Regions from separate parts of the Homo sapiens genome. Here region 2 is linked to region 1. The links come from fine-mapping of genetic effects on gene expression. Tissue or cell type: whole blood. Region 1 holds a variant in brackets; the other region holds the start of a gene. All regions are shown on one strand. Distances are from middle to middle.

Region 1 (8,179 bases):
TCTGAACCCACAAACGTGCCTGTTTCCCAACTCAGAGCCAGCGTCACCTCCACCCTCCGCACTTCCGTGGGGCCTGCAACCGCATCCCCTGCCACAGGGAATCTACAAAGTGGAGTGGTGAAGAGGGGCACACACCTGGGCCAAACCCAGACAGCCCCGGCTTGTATATCTCTTCTCTCCCCAAATCCTTCCAAATCATCTTCCCTCCCCATTCCAGCCCCTCAAACTGAGACTGAAGATGCAGGTGTGCTCAGGGCTGCTGAAGCAGGTGTGCTCAAAGACCTCCTGGAAACTGGCCACAGCTGCAGGTATCTGTGGCCCGGACAGGCTGGGAGGGGCCTGGGCCTGCCCTGGAGGGGCTCTGTTTCGTAGGAAAGAAAATAGAAAAACACTGAAAAGACCCCCACCACCTTCAGCATAGAAAGGCTGCTAGTGCGCCACAAGCAGGCCGCCCTAGAAATGGGGTGGCTGAGACGGCCTGCGGAGCCCTTTTGCCCCAGCCCTGCAGAAGAAGGGCAGGGTGGCCTCAAACAGATCTCATCCTGCTGCAAAACAGCCCTGGGGGCCTCGGGCAGGGAGGCGGGCTACTCTGGGGCTAGACGCAGGGCTGTGCACAGACAGGTTCAGGAAGTGGATGCACGGTCCCAGCAACACTCAGAGCTTGAGCAGATGCAGGACAGGCTGGGAAAAAGGGAGGAGCTGGGCTGTGAGGAGACAGGACTTGGGGCAGTCTACAGGGGAGGATGCACGAGGGGCAGGCAGGCAGGGGGTGCTGCGATGGGCAGGGGATGCAGCATGCCGCACACTGCTCAGACCTGCGTGACCCTCCCACCCCGCCTACAGCTGGCCTGTGTGACTGGCCAGCTCTCACCTGCACCAGCTGGACCTGGACGCCCTGCGCCCCGCACTGCACCCCAGCTGCTGGAGCTGGTCCTGGCCGTCCTCCGCTGGGCACCACGAGGCTCCCACACAACCAACTGTTCTGGCTTGCATGGAAATGGGGAGGACTCATTTTGCCTTCTTTTATTTTTCTCTGAGTAGACTGTGAGGCTCCTAAAATGAAATATAAAAACGAGCACACCCAATCTACAATCTACCAGTCAGGTCTGCCCTTACCAAGGTCTCACTATGGGGAAGACAGCCTTCCCATTAATTGTCATTCTGCACAGCTAAGAGACGTAAAATCACTTAACAGAAAAAATCAAGAGTTAAGAGGTTGAAACAAACAACCATACGAACAAAAAAACATCAGGATTTTGATTTTAAAAATGTAAAAACATCATACGTATTTTTTTGCCAGACGGTACGGTAATCAGACACAAGCTGCAAATTCTTGGAGAGCAGAATCCTCTAACTCCAGCAGCTGCTGGCTGGCAGGAATCCCAAGCGCAACTGAGGACAGCCAACAGCCCAGAGCCACAGCATCATGGAATAGGAAGGAAGCGGGCGGTCTCCATACCCCACCTGTGGGTGGACTGCTGCCTCTGTCCAGCTCCTTTCCAAGTCACTACTCCATGGGTTTTACAAATATGTGCTTCTTAAGAAATGAAGTAAAGCACAAAGAAAAAAGAAAAAATCTTAACACCCATAACAAACCCAAGAGCTGCTTCAAAAGGGCCCAAAGGTAGCCTAGAGCGTGCACTGCAGAGACCCCGGCTAGGCTCACCCTGACCCGCCACCCACTCTGCTCCAGGGATCTGGAAAAGGAACTCAAGCTCTGGGCCTCAGCATTATCTACCTGTAAAATGGGAATGCTAGTCCCAACCTCGGAAGGTTTTGGAGAGGATTTCATAGGAAATATGTGATCAAAACTTAGAACAGTGACTGGCGAGTGCCAAGGAGTTTAGGCACTGTCACTGCTCTGCCCACACATCCCTGCCTGGATGTGTGGGATCCAGCTATGAACGGCTTCAAAAAAACAACTGTACAATGACTATCATATAAGTTATTCCTAATAAAAGTATTCAATTGGGTGACCCTGCTGCCCAAGGCAGGCTGTTTTTACGAGGCTGTTTGACAGGAAGGTTCTGAGCAGCCCATGGGGTGAGAGCTGACTTGCCCTGCATATGCTGTCTCCCTGACCTGCTCACCTCACTCCAGATCCCTTCCTGTCTTCCGCAGTGCCCTGGGTCCCGGAGAGCTTCACACTCAGCAGGCAAGCCAACTGGGTGCACAAACCTTGGGTCCTCTGTACTTAGGCACAGCCTGCTGTCTTTTCTGGGTGCCTCAGGGCTCTTTTTCTTTGAAGTGCAAATGCTAACCAGGAGGTTTCTGGGTAACACAGATTCAGTTCCCCCTCACTGCAGGGAGATGCACTTCCATTACAAAATACTTCCTTTCTGTTCATCCATCAGTGTTCCAGAAAACCCAGCAACCCTCGCTCTGGATCATCTCTGACTGTTCTCCACGCCTGGTTTCTCTTTTTCTAATTGCTCTACTTGCTTCAGACAGAAGAGCAGGGCTGGGTCTGGGGCAAGAGAGGTGCCTGGGGCACAAAACTTACTCACCCCTCCTTGAGGAAACTTCACATCAGTTCCTAGTACTGCAGTCTATTAAGTCTGCAATAACATTATGTCTAAAACAATGCATACCTTAATTTAAAAATACTTTATTGCTAACAAATACCGACATAGACATGAAGTGAGAACATGCTGTTGGAAAAATGGTGCCAACAGACTTGCTGGATACAGGTTTGCCACAAACCTTCAATTTGTAAAAAGCAAAAAAAAAGTCAACTGCAAAAAATGAAGCGTGCCTATATCCTCCGTGAGCTTGTATACTATCCCACTTACCTCCAGAATTTTACCTGAATGCATTTCTATGCTTTCAAGTCTTTTATCACCCTAGCATATAAAAATATGTACATAAACTTAACTTTTATTTAACTTCTAGGCATTAACATTTTTGGTTTGAACTGTTACAACTGCAATTATTAGTAATGCAAAACAAATCAAAACAAAATATATCAGAAACTTTGATAGATAATTATGATATTAAAAGCAAAATTATATTAAAAATGCTTTTCAAGAGGAGTGGGACTGACTGGTGGTTTTCTTCCCCAGTTAGTTCATGTATTTGTGTCTAAATATTACTTCTTGCTAGAATTAGACATGGTCAGCATCTATTCTTGTCAATTAAAAACTTTTTTAAAATAAGATGCTCATGTGTCATCACAACTTTGCAGCTGCAGGTTGAGTTTATTCAAGTGAGGGGGAACTGCCTGCCCACGAAGCCCCAGCAGCAGGGCCGGTGCTGCAGCCAGAACAGTCGCATTACGCTTGCTTTCTAATAAAAGGCCTGGCTTCATTTTTAAATTCAAATAAAAATACTGAAACATGTTATTATATTAGAAATATTGGCC[G/A]GGCGCAGTGGCTCACGCCTGTAATCCCAGCGCTTTGGGAGGCCAAGGCGGGCAGATTACAAGGTCAGGAGATCGAGACCATCCTGGCTAACACGGTGAAACCTCGTCTCTACTAAAAATACAAAAAATTAGCCAGTGGTGGTGGCGGGTGCCTGTAGTCCCAGCTACTCGGGAGGCTGAGGCAGGAGAATGGCATGAACCCAGGAGGCAGAGCTTGCAGTGAGCCGAGATCATGCCACTGCACTCCAGCCTGGGTGACAGAGCGAGACTCCCTCTCAAAAAAAAAAAATAATAATAATATGAAAACCACTGTAGAATAAATTAAGGCAGGCAGTGAATAGTGTATCTCTCCAGATTTCTTTTAAAAGCAGGCAAGATTTTAAATGATGTATATCAAGTATTTATTATCAAGTTTTATAACATAAACAAGATAAAACTGAGCCATTCATCATGATTCAATGCCAAATGTGTACGCCACGCTCTAAGTTACCTACAAAGCAAGAAATATGACTGAATCCTAATATTCCTTTGCAAAATGTGTGCTAGAATGTATGTGCCATTCGAATCATGGGAAAATCAGAATTGGGTGCAAAATCAGAAATAATTCCACTAATGTTGCTAGACATGGTTACACTTTCCTTTTATACCTAAACCAGTAACTAAAATGATTCTATCTTTATTAACAATTTACTTGTATTACTTTTACAACAGGAAAAAAGATAGGCTGTAACGAGAATATCTCATGACAAGCTAAATTGGTTTCAACTTCTGTATCAGCATACAATATGAAAAAAAATCACAGGAATTTCTTTTCAATCCGCACATTTAATTCAGTGTCTCAGGTAGTCCTGTAGACACCAGTTACACTGAGAAGAAACACCACCACTAATTTGCATCAGAAGGTATTTTTCTTCCCAGCTAACAACTCGTCTAGGGATAAAAAGTCAATAGCTGAAAAGAATTGCTCACGCTTATACATACATAGGGCTCATTCCTGAAAAGTAATACATTCTTTGACAACAGCAGAGGGCTGGCAAAGGTGAGGACTTTCTACGAGAGATGTCCATCCATGCCCCACATCCCCTCTCTGATGTACCTCAAGCAGAACATCTCAGCGTCCACCCCTAGACACATCTCTGCACAGGAAGGGTAAGCTGGCAAGCCCGGCTCATTAAAGTTTTAATGTCGGTATTATTCTACAGGATGCTTCCCTGAAACCAGTATTTGGAACTGCCCCTGGGTTTGGTGCTCTGGAAGGATATCCTGTTTTTGTGTGCACTCCAAGGCAACACACTGCAGTAGAAGTCTGGTGGAGAGTTGCAGCCTCCCCGTTTTTTGGCAAGCAGAAGGACAGCTGTGGGTGAGGGGGAGAACCTGCCACAGATGAGCTCGGACACCCCTTCTCAGAGAGTCCGTTCCAGCAAGGACTGCACCTGGAAGATGAACCTGGAAAGGATGCAGGGGTCCAGGCCAACAGCTGTGAGAGAACAGGGCAGCCAGGGGAGGAGGGGCCAAGCCCCAGTTGCTGAGTTGTCCCCCAGGCCTGAGCAGGGTGTTCTGTCCTAGAATCCCTGACGGTACACCCTGAAGTCTGGTGGTATGTCGTGAACATTTAAGATGGCTGAAAGTTAATCATAAACTTCCTGGGTTAACTAAGCAAGTATGTTTATCTAGGGATGCTTAAGGACATGCCAAAGCAAACAAATGGGGTCCACACCACGTCCTCACGATAACCATGAAGCCCTGGGTCCTCACTAGTAAAGGGCGCCATGGCATCAAATGCAATATGATCAATTTAATTAATAAAGCAGTCACAAGAAAAATCAAATTCCTCTCTCACAATGGACAACCACAAACCCTTATAGAACAAGGTAACAACACCGAACTACATTTTGCTTCAATATTTTCAATCATTATCCAAAATGCTTGCTTGTGCTGGAGAATCTGCAGGAGTGGGGAGAGGAGCAGTATAAATCCAACACCAAGCAACCTCCTGGGAAGCAAGGAAGGACTCCTTAAGGAAGAGTCCTATCTAGGTATGATGGTAAATAGCAAAGTGGTCAAGGGCCCCGGCTTGGGAGCTGGACGATCCAGCTATGTGACTCAGCTCCCATCATCTGCGGTGAATGGAGATGGCCACACTGCTTTCACCTCACCGTGCCATGACGAGAATTAGGTGAGGTCAACAGCACTGGGCCTGGCTCAAACAGCATGCCATCCCCACACCAGTAGCACCGCAGTGCCTGCCACAGGACAGAGTTCAGAGCCAGCCAGGTGCCCCGAGAAAGGATCTGCACAGATGAGGCTCAGGCCCCTCCCTTGATAACCACAGGGGGTCATGCGAGCTTCCTCTACTGAGATCCTCACTTGAACAGGAGGTAAGTGACTATTTTCCCAATTCTCCCAAGGGTGGAAGATCAGAGGTCACTGGGGCTTAACTCACTAGGTCCCTGACATGGTTAGTTCAACACAGCTCTTATAAAGATATAATATGTTAATATACTTATCCACAAGGAAAAATATTCATATTAAGAACAAAAAGCAGATAAAAATGTTTATCATTTTTCAAAAACAAGTCATTTGTGTAGGTTTCAGATTTCACATTTGTGTAGGTTTCATTCAGTTTAACACTGAAACACTGTAAGTAGTTTTTCTTGGGTGGTGAAGCTACAGGGGAGAAAGCATAAGGAACCCACAATGATCTCTTCCAGAGTAAACCCACATGACCAGCCCTGCCTGTGCTGAGTGCTCACCCTTTGCTTAGGGATGTGCTGCTCACACGACAGGTCCTTTGTTCTGCAGGGGCACTCTCTCCTCCAGGGCATCTGGCAGGCCCTGAGTACCCGACTGCCTCCTCCCATCTCACAGCCTTCATGGGTATTCTCACCAAGCTACCTTCCCAGATGAACTTAAAGTAGACAGGTGTTTAAGTTACTCTGGGATTTTACAGGAACTGAATAAAGTATGTAAGTGAACAAGAATTGGGCATCTCTAGCTGGCAGACCCTACACAGGACCTTACCCATTCAGAGCACACTTGTCATGAGTGAGCCTGGCATATTTTATTACTTTTACTGTCATTATGAATAAGGTCAGTTTTTCACAATTATTCTTATTGGAAAATCTATTAATTTTATATATACAAATATGTACTGTGCAATTAGCTATCTATTGATCCTTCTTATTTCTAATTGCTTGAGTTGATTCCCCTGGGTTTTCTAAGCCTGACAATGACTTTGTCATTAAGTAATCATCATTCTCTCCTTTCTATTTGATTCTGCTTCTTTAAAAATAGAGACTTCCATAAAAGTGTCAAATAGATTGCGCCAATGGTTTGGTTTACCATTCCTCCAGCTTTGGGGGGATGCCAACATCTCTCCACTGAAAATGCCACTGACAGCTGGCTGCTCTCTAGTATTAGGGAAATCTGGGTTCCTAGTTGATTCATATTTGTGATGTTTTCAAATCAGTAGCAGGTGATGAATGTCATCAACTGCCCTGTTCGGCCTCTGTGGACCCTGCACGTCTCTTGCGGCATTTGCTGTGGCAAATCATGCTGACAGGCTGCCTCGCCCCACATCACCCTCGCCCGCTGTCCATGTGCTGGTATTTCACTTGGGATTCCCATGCCTGCTTCACCTGCTGGAGGTGAGACACAGTGTTCCTGCATACCACGTGGCCAACAGGCTCAGTAACAGCTCTGAGGGCAGCCGGCCTTGGGTTCAATCCTGCCGCTGCCCCTGCCCCTACCAGCTATGCAGCCCTGGCTGAACTCTTCCTGCCTCAGCTTTCTCATCCAGAAAGGTGGGGACACGAGGACCTACACCTCACAGGATTGTTGCGAGGACTAATGGGGTAATAGATGTAGATGTGCTGGGCTTAGAACTGTGCAGGGCACACCGTATGTCTTCAATAGTTATCACACCTTTGTCAAGTTTTAGAACCAGGGTATGTTAGCTTTATACATTAAATTATTAGCTTTTATTTGAGGTCTGCGCAAGTTTCATCACCCATTCAACAAGTATGTACTGTATCTTCACCACATGGCAGGTGCTCGGCCAGATGGTGGCCCTGCACATGGAGCTTACAGCTGCTGGCTGGTGCGCTCAGTACAGCCGTGCATTTTGCAGCACACAGACAAACCCACAATAGATGAGCAACAAGGGGTGAGAAAGTACAGGGTACCCTGGGAGCCTCGAGAGGCCACTGACAGGACCCCAAAGTGTCTGTGACACAGACACCACCCTTGAGGAGCTAATCACAGAGGGGACCCTGCCTAGAACACTCTGGGCATTCCACACAGGCATCCCGGGCAGGCACCAGGGCATGGCACGGCCATGCACTAAGAAGCAAGCACCAGAGACCAGCACGTCGTGGGGCTGCCACCCCTAGGGCTGGAGGGACTAGGGAAGGTGTGGCGTCACCAGAGTCCAGAACAGGGACAGCGTATAGCAGAACTACAGCAGGGGCCACCCAGGAAGAACTGGGGCCACAGCCATGAGGGTAGACGGCCATCGCCATGAAACTCCCACGGAAGCAGAGCAAGTGAGGCCCTGCCTCGCTCCACACACCCTCTAATCTCCCCCTAATGTTCCCACTGCCAAACCTGGCTGGAAGCGCTGAGAGGAGCCTGGGTCAGTGTCTCCAAGAATGCGAGTCAGACAGCAACGGCCAGCATCCACACGGCAGGAGGTGCAGGAACTGCCTGGGGAGACGGGACGGGGCAGCACGCAGGCAGGGCAGGTCCACAGGCACGGCACATAGCACAGGGTATGGCATAGGGCAGCCAAGGCCAGCTCCGGAGGCCTCAGAAGAGTAA
Region 2 (8,179 bases), 31 kb after region 1:
CGTGGCAAAAATTATACAACATAGCTAATGCTAGTCACACCCACCAGACCCTGTTCACACTGAAGCAGACAAGGGAAAACATGACTCAGAAGCACTCTCTAAAAAGGGAAGACCATTAATGCTTGGCTTTGTGATCACCACAGGAAGGCAGCTAATGGCAGCCAATAGGCACACGCTGGCCACCTGTTGCAACATGACTTGGAGATGGAGCAACCGATAAAGAGAAAGTCCTCCGTTCACAGCCATCTACTGGCCGGCTCCGGAGCACTGATCCTGCACACACACTGAGACCCAAGAACCCCATGAGAGAAATCAAATACTAAGGAACAAGATTTTGTCTGGTAGGGTTGATCTTTGAAAGGCTACAAATCATCCTACTAGCCAGGATTTTTCACCCCTTGGGGGTGATGCTGCATCCTCTACATATCCAAATTTCCTCCCTGACACCCTCCAACTGCCAGCCCTGTCCCTTGCTGTTTGGATTCTTTTTCCTTTCGCAATTTCCTTAGGTTCCCTGCTTTGTAATCTTCACCTCAATCCTAACCCCTGGCCAAAGCAGCTAAGCCTCAACAATTCCACAGCAATACTTCTCCTCCGACAGAAACATTCAGGGCTCCAACAGGGTGGAAAACATGAGGCTGCAGGATGTTTAACAGGAGTCTTTGCTGCAGCTCCTCTTGGAGCCTTTAACGAGATACTATCATGCCTATGAACTGCCACACAGATGTACATGGCATAGCACTGCCCAAAAGTATCAGCCCAAGGAACCCTACTTTCCCCAGCAACATCTAACTCAGAAATGCTGATCTTTGGCCTCAATCTGGTCCCAAAATACCTCCAGGGTATTTTGGGCTTCGGTGTGTTCACACACTTGGTCATGTAAATCTGAACACAGACTCTCTCTGCCTTGGCAAGAACCCCCCACACCCCCATAGATAATTACACCCTTTGGTTCTCCCTCTGCAATCTCACCTGCTAGAGACCCTCATCATTCCCACTCCCTGGCTCAGGCCTTCAGAAAACTCAGGTCTGGGCCCTTTGATGATGCTTCCCTGGTCCTGCTCCTGCTTCTAAACATCTAATCTCATCTAACCATCTAATCTCATCTCAACACAAGAAGCCTCATGGATCAGCCAACACAAAACCCTCAAGAGACCTCATGCCTGGAAGCAGGCGGGATCCCTGACCTTCCCAGTGTCATACACAGAATGATACTCTTTTAGCAGGGAAAGGGTCTACAGCCACCATCAGATTCCCAAGAGTGTATGACTGAAAAAGACTTTGAGCTAGTGGCCTCAAGCCACATTCTCTCTGAAGAGGAATGCGCAAGACAGTCCACAGGCATATGCGAGGGAAAAAATAATAAAACCCGTTCATAATTCTCATCTCATCCTTTAAAAATTCTTGTTTAAGGACATTATAAGGAGAGCCGTGTGCATATACAGGTTAGGGGCATGCTAGGCACACATTCCAGTTTCTGTTTGAATGACTGGTCCTTCCTCCTGGGCCCTCACCACAGACCACAATCCCCACCTGGGCTCTGCCACCCAGCCGACTCCATTCTTCTGCCTTTCCAGGGAGGAATCCTTTCTTGCCCTTCTGGAGGAACCCTATCCCTGTGAAAGCAGGGAAAGCTGCCCATCCTGGTGAAGAGCTCACTGTGTTGGAGTCCTACATTCCCAACAACTGCAGGTCAACACACAGGAGAAAGAACAGGCAGTGGACTTTTTTTTTTTTTTTTTTTTGAGACGGTGTCTCGCTCTGTCGCCCCGGCTGGAATGCAGTGGCGCGATCTCGGCTCACTGCAAGCTCCGTCTCTGGGGTTCACACCATTCTCCTGCCTCAGCCTCCCGAGTAGCTGGGACTACAGGCGCCCGCTACCACGCCCGGCTAATTTTTTGTAGTTTTAATAGAGACGGGGTTTCACCGTGTTAGCCAGGATGGTCTCGATCTCCTGACCTCGTAATCCGCCCGCCTCGGCCTCCCAAAGTGCTGGGATTACAGGCGTGAGCCACCGCGCCCAGCCACCAGCAGTGGACTTTATCCACAAGGCTCGGCCTCTGTCTCTTCATCTGTAAAAGAGGACAGTTTTTAACCTTCACAGACGGCTAATTTTTAAAACTTCACAAAACTGTGAGGTTCAACGGAAATCAAAGTGCAAAAGGCAAAAAAAGCCAGGATGTGCGCACACCTGTGGCTATCCTCCCAGCGTGTTAAGGTCCTGAATCTGGCCACATTCATCTCTGCTCCTCTAGCACGGAGTGTGCACCCCGTAAACAAATGACGAGACTGAGGAAAATAAAGACCTGACACATAGCTCCGTGCCACTCTGTGAAGATGCGTGCCGCTTTCATCAAGCACAAGCAGGTTAAGGATATCTGTTGCCGCCACCTTTGGGAAGCGCAGCTGTGGTGATCTGCGCTACCTGCCATCGGAATCCCTGCGGCAGGGCAGGGCCAAGATCTCAAATCGAATGACATGGAAGGAGCTAGAATACAAATCCCGAAGAGCCTGCGTCCCCGGCTTGCTAAGGTCTGGCAGGCCCCTCTGTGGGGCGGACGTGGCACCCCAGACCTGCCTGCAACACCGCGCAGCCCGCCCGCCCCCGAGAGCGCGGTTACCGGGAAAGTCACACTTGTAAGGGCGCTCGGGCTCGAAGTGGCTGCGCTGGTGGGAGCTGAGCTTGGCGTGCGTGGGGAAGCGCTCGGCGCACACCTCGCACTTGAACAGGCTCTCCTGCTCGTGGCCCTTCATGTGCGCCTTGAGGTTATAGACCGTAGTGAACTTCTTGCCACAGCCGCCCACTGGACAGCCGAAGGGCCGCAGCTTGTCGTGCGACTGCAGGTGCCGCTTGAGCTTGTAGGACGTTGTGAAGGCCCAACCACAGCCCTCCAGTGGGCACTTGAAGGGCCGCCGGCCCTGACCGCCGCCGTGCGTGAGCAGGTGCACCTTGAGCTGGTGCTTCTTGGCGAAGGCCAGCGCGCACTGCGGCTCGGGGCAGCGGTAGCCGGGCGTGCTGGGGCCGGAGGCCTGGGGCGCGCGGCGGGGAGCGGCGGCGCCCGCGGTTGCGGGGCCGGGCGGCGCAGACAGCGCGAGGACGCCGCGGTCGAGACGCACCAGCAGGTCCTGGCTGCTGATGGTGACGGCGCCCGCCGGGGCTACGCCAGGGCCGGGGGGGGCGGCCGGGCCGCTGGGGCCCTGCTCGGGGCGGCTCGCCAGGTTGACACGGGAGCCAGGCTCGGCCTCCTGTGATCCGGCAGCCTCGGCGGCAGCGCCGCCGTGCGGCACTTCCAGCAGCACCAAGAAAGAGTCGCCGTCGCTGTCGTCCTCGGCGGGCGGCGGGCTTGGCCCGGAGGCCTCCCCGGGCCGCGCCCCGGGCCCGCCATCTTCAGGGCCCCGCACCAGTAGCAGGCGGCGGCGCGCGGGGCTCGCGCCGAGCGGCGCTGGGGCTCGGCGGAGCGGGCCGGGGCCGCCGCCATGTTGCCCTCCGCGCGCAGTCGGGGCGGGGAGCAGCGCCGGGAGGTCCATCTTGGTCCCAGCGACGGCGTCGGAGCAGCTTCGGACGCAGAGCTGCCCGCGCCCCGCCCAGGTGTGCGTGCGCCGCCCCGGGACGCGATCCGCGCCAAGCCCCGGCGTAGAGTCCGGCTCGGAACCGCGCGTGCGCGGACGCCGCCGGGCGATGCGCGAGGCCTGCTGGGCTGACGTGACGTGAGGCTGGGCTGCGGGGCGCCGGAGGCGGAGGCGGGGGCGGGGCGCCGGGACCGACTAGGGCGGGGCGCGGGGTCGGGGGGCGGGGCGCGGGGTCGGGGGGCGGGGCGCGGGGTCGGGGGGCGGGGCGCGGGGTCGGGGGGCGGGGCGCGGGGTCGGGGGGCGGGGCGCGGGGTCGGGGGGCGGAGCGCCGGCACCTACGAGGGCGAGCGGCGGGGCACGGGACCGACAGGGGACGGGGTGAGGCTCCCAACGCTGAGCGATTCCTTCTCGTTCCCGCTGGCGTGGAAGACGAGGCTTGTCTTGACTTCGAATCGTATTAATATTTCAGACACTTAACAGGCAACCTCTCGTAGGCATTGACTGCGTCCCAGGGGCTGTACCTGTCCGAGCTGATTAAGCGTGCGCGGTCACCCAGGGGTGAGGAAACAGGGACGGCGAGCTCGAGTCACTCGGCAGCCGGCAGATCCAGGATTCGAACCTGTCCAACAGGCCGGACGCCTACCCCCAGCTCACTTAAGTGCAAGCTCGCCTGCCGCCGCTGGCGCACAGACCTCGTTTGCTTTGGCCCAGGTCCTTGCTCGGCACACGGGGCCTCCCTGATACGCAGGACCCCTGCCTGTATTTCCAACTGTATTTCCTACTAAACTTGGCACAACCTCACTCTGCAACAGCTTAATTACTTACTGTTTCCGGTCCTCACCCTCCCCCACCTCACCGTACACCTCCGCATTCAATCTGGACTCCTCCACTTCAACTTCACCACCACTCAGATCCAAACCCGCACTTTATTCCTGGGTACCTGAAAAATAACTACTAGCTGGTCATCGGTCTCCCTCCGCTCCACTCGCTCCCATCCACGGGGCACCGTTTTATGATCTAAAAATTGCACATCAAATTATGCTCACCTCCACCTTGCTCCCGAAGGCGCCTATGGCCTTGCTAGTCTACCCTCCCCTACCTGTTTGCCCTCACTTCCCGCCACTCTCCCGCTGCCCCCCCCACCCCTCCCCCGCACCCCACCTCTTTTTCCCAGTTCATCCAGCAAGCCAAGCTGGTTCCAGCCTCAGAGACTTGGCGCAGCTGATCTCTGATTCCTCTGGGAGGACTCTGCGCCCCTTCTGATCCAAAGCACATGCTTACCCAGTCCCGTATTCCCACCTCTGTCTGATCTGTTTGCTCTTAGAGCTCTCATCACCCGTTGTTTTGTTGAGTTCCTTCCCTGCTCCTTCACTGTCTCTCCCTCTCTGGAATGTAGGCTCCTGGAGCCCAGGAACTGTGTCCTATTCACTGTGTGTGCCCAGGAAGACTCTTGGTGCATATTTGTTAAATACATGAATGCTTTATTATTAAGAGTATTTTTTTAAGTAACACAAATTATAATATTAAAAAGAATAGGATACATCTATTATATATATCAGTTTATGCCGAAAACATATTGTTCCTAGACCATTCAGTAGAGGAAAGAATAGTCATTTCAATAATGGCGGCACTGGGACAACTGGATCTCCACATGCAAAAGAACCAATTTGGACGTGTATCTCTCATCAGAGGCAAAAATTAACTCAAATTAGAGCAAAAGCCTACACGTAAGACATAAAACTATTTGAAGAAAAGTAGGTGTAAATCTATGTGACCCTGGATTAGGGAATAGTTTCTTAGATATAATATTGAAAGCACAAGAAAGAAAAATAGATAACTTGGACTTCATCAAAATTAAAAACTTACTCAGGTAAAAGGACACCAATAAGACAGTGAAAAGACAACTCAGAATGGGAGAAGGGTGTGCAAATCGAATATCTGATAAGGATCTACTATCTGGAATATATAAAGAACTCTTAGCAAGAAGACAAACAGTCCACTTTTTTAAAAGGCAAAGGTTTGAATAGACATATTTCTCCAAAGAAGATAATACAAACAGCCAATAAGCAAATAAAAAGAGGCTCAACATCACGAATCATTAGGGAAATGCAAATCAAAACACAGTGAGATACAACTTCACACCTACTCAAATAGTGGTAATTTTTTTAAAAACAGGATATAGAAAAATTGGAACTCTCACATATGGCTGGTGGGAATGTATAACGTTGCGGTGTGGAAAACAGTTTGGCAGTTCTGCAGAAAGCTAAACATAATCTCCACATGACCCAGCAAGTCCATCCCTGTGTTGCTGAGGCTGGAGTGTGGTGGCTATTCACAGGTGCAATCATAGTGCGACCTCCAACTGGCCTCAAGCAGTCCTTCCGGGTCAGCCTCCCAATTAACTGGACTACAGGCATATGCCACCATGCCCAACTTGTTGCGCAGCATTGATTATGCCACATTCTCGTGATCAAAGAAGTCATAAGACACTGCAGACCCAGGCAAGGGGAACTTGTACTCCACCTCTCAATGGGAGGTGCTGGAAAGAATTTGCAGCCATTTTTAAACTATCACAACTTCTCTGTGCCTCAGTTTCCTCATGTGTAAAATGAAGGGGACTGAGAAAGAAAAAGGGCAGCCCCTGCCATCCAGAAACTGGCCGGGTGCTACAGCTGGGCCACTCTGTTCTGTAAGACTTGAACCATCACGCAGAAAACCAACCTAGGCCAAGGTCACTGAAACACAATGACATGAGACAAAGCAAGGCCACTTCATGATGTGTCTCCACCCAGATAAAGCGAGGTCACTTGCTGTGCCATTTACAAGATACCCAGCAGCCCCTCTCTCAGCTAACGTGAGCAGCCGCCGCTTTTGTACCCCTGACAGCCTGTCTGTCTGTGTGCTTCCCTCTCTGTATATAGGATTTAGTCAGAAACCTAGTCATGGTGTTGACCCGATTTCTGGTAAGAGCCAATCCAGAGCAAATCCCCGCTTCCTAAGACTCCCCCACCCAACCAAAGCTCAAATCTGATACTAGGTTGTTTCAGATACTAGGTTGTTTCAGCCTTCTGCTGAGATACCCTGAAAGGAGCAACAGGACTCCTGGCGAGGGTCAGACGCGCCACTTCACCAGGTGGGCTTGAGTCAGCTCAATGTGGTCATCCAGTGGGGCTCAGGCAGAGACTTGAACTTGGTAGTCTCAAAGGAGTGCCCCAAATTACAAGGACCACAGAGATTGTGCCTTGGCCAGCCAGACCTGTACTCTCCAGGCTGTGTGGAAAGGATTTTGGAGAAGCCAGGGGAAGGGACGCAGATGACACACGCATGCACGCTCAGATTTATTTGTGTCTGGGGAGAAATCCCATCAGCCCAGGTATCGCTGGATGTCCAGCACCTCTTTTGGGCTAAAAGGCATCATGTGGATCTTGAGATTGCTAACAGAGAAGTGTCCAGGATTCCCAAATTTTGATGGGAGTGGGGATGAGGTTCACTGGGAGCAAAAGAGCATCTCTTTGTCAAAGGTCACAAGTTCAAATCCCAGCAGAGGTCATACAAGTCACACAAATGTGGGAGACAGGTGGGCACAGGAAACATAGACTCTCATGCCAAGGGACAAACAGCATACACGCTCCGCCTCACCATGGGTTCTGTAGGGACTGGAAGGGACTGTGGCCAAGTGCAGAGAGCTAGGCCAGCCCAGAGGGGCCCCCAGCAAATCACTGCCACAGAGGTGGTGAGAACATGGTGTTACCTTATATCTTGATTTTCAAAAAATAAGCTCTGGATTTCTCCCAATTTGTAAACATTGGTGACAAAGTCAAATTTTTTTAAAAACAGGACAGACCAAACAAAACACAACTGCAGGCTGAGTGTAGTGCTGTGCTCCTGTGGTCCCAGCTACTTGGGAGGCTAAGGCAGGAGGATCACTTCAGCCCAGGAGTTCAAGGCTACAGTGAGCCATGATTGCACCACTGCACTCCAGCCTGAGTGACAGAGCAAGATCCTATTTCTAAAAAATATATAAATAAAACATAACTGCAGGTCATGCCCGGCCCACAGGCCCCTGTGTGGTTGTCTACTCTGGGAAAACTGGAATGGGAGAGTGCATCACTCAGCCAGGCCCTCCCTCCCTGACCTTGGCTTGCCAGCAAGGAAAGCATACAGTTCCCAGGGACCCTGGGTTTGCAGAGAGCAGGCGCTGCCCAGGGGGAGGACCCTAATGCTGTACTGCAGGGCCTGAGCCTTTCTCACCTCCAACTCTTAAGGCAACTGAACCCTACACTCATCATGGCCAACTGGTTTCTCTTTTAATCATTTTGATGAAAACATTTCTAACTGGACTATACATCCTTGCCTTCTGAAAAAGAAGATGGCACTGGGCACATCAGAAGCCACGCTGTTCCTTCCATGGCGACTACAGCTGTGACCAGCTGCCCCAATTCCGCTGTGAGCCCCGTGGGAGTCAGCTGTCACTTACCACTGCAGCAGCAGACAGCAGGTTGGCATGCAGGGGCCAGGGAAGTAGCTTGCTCCCTGGCATGGCTTGGTATGGAGCCCAGAGGGGGTCTGGGGTCTGTGTGCAGCTGGAAGCCACCAGAGCCCTCCCTGT

What was found. PIP is the estimated chance that this variant, and not a neighbour inherited with it, causes the effect.
Region 2: ZXDC starts here. The variant in region 1 is fine-mapped to the expression of ZXDC in whole blood (INTERVAL, PIP above 0.99).

What each region holds. Positions count from the first base shown.
Region 1 is chr3:126,440,894-126,449,072 of GRCh38, forward strand. It overlaps ZXDC (ZXD family zinc finger C), which reads right to left. Exons shown (of 10, transcript NM_025112.5): 8 at 872-1,053. Among named protein-coding and RNA genes, the nearest start is that of ZXDC, 31 kb to the right of the region's middle. RefSeq lists enhancers at 350-985, 7,435-8,179. The variant G/A (reference allele first, on the strand shown) is at 3,362.
Region 2 is chr3:126,472,338-126,480,516 of GRCh38, forward strand. ZXDC (ZXD family zinc finger C) reads right to left here and starts at 3,554. Exons shown (of 10, transcript NM_025112.5): 1 at 2,622-3,554. The coding sequence starts at 3,528. RefSeq lists an enhancer at 1,901-2,426 and silencers at 2,984-3,243, 3,314-3,823.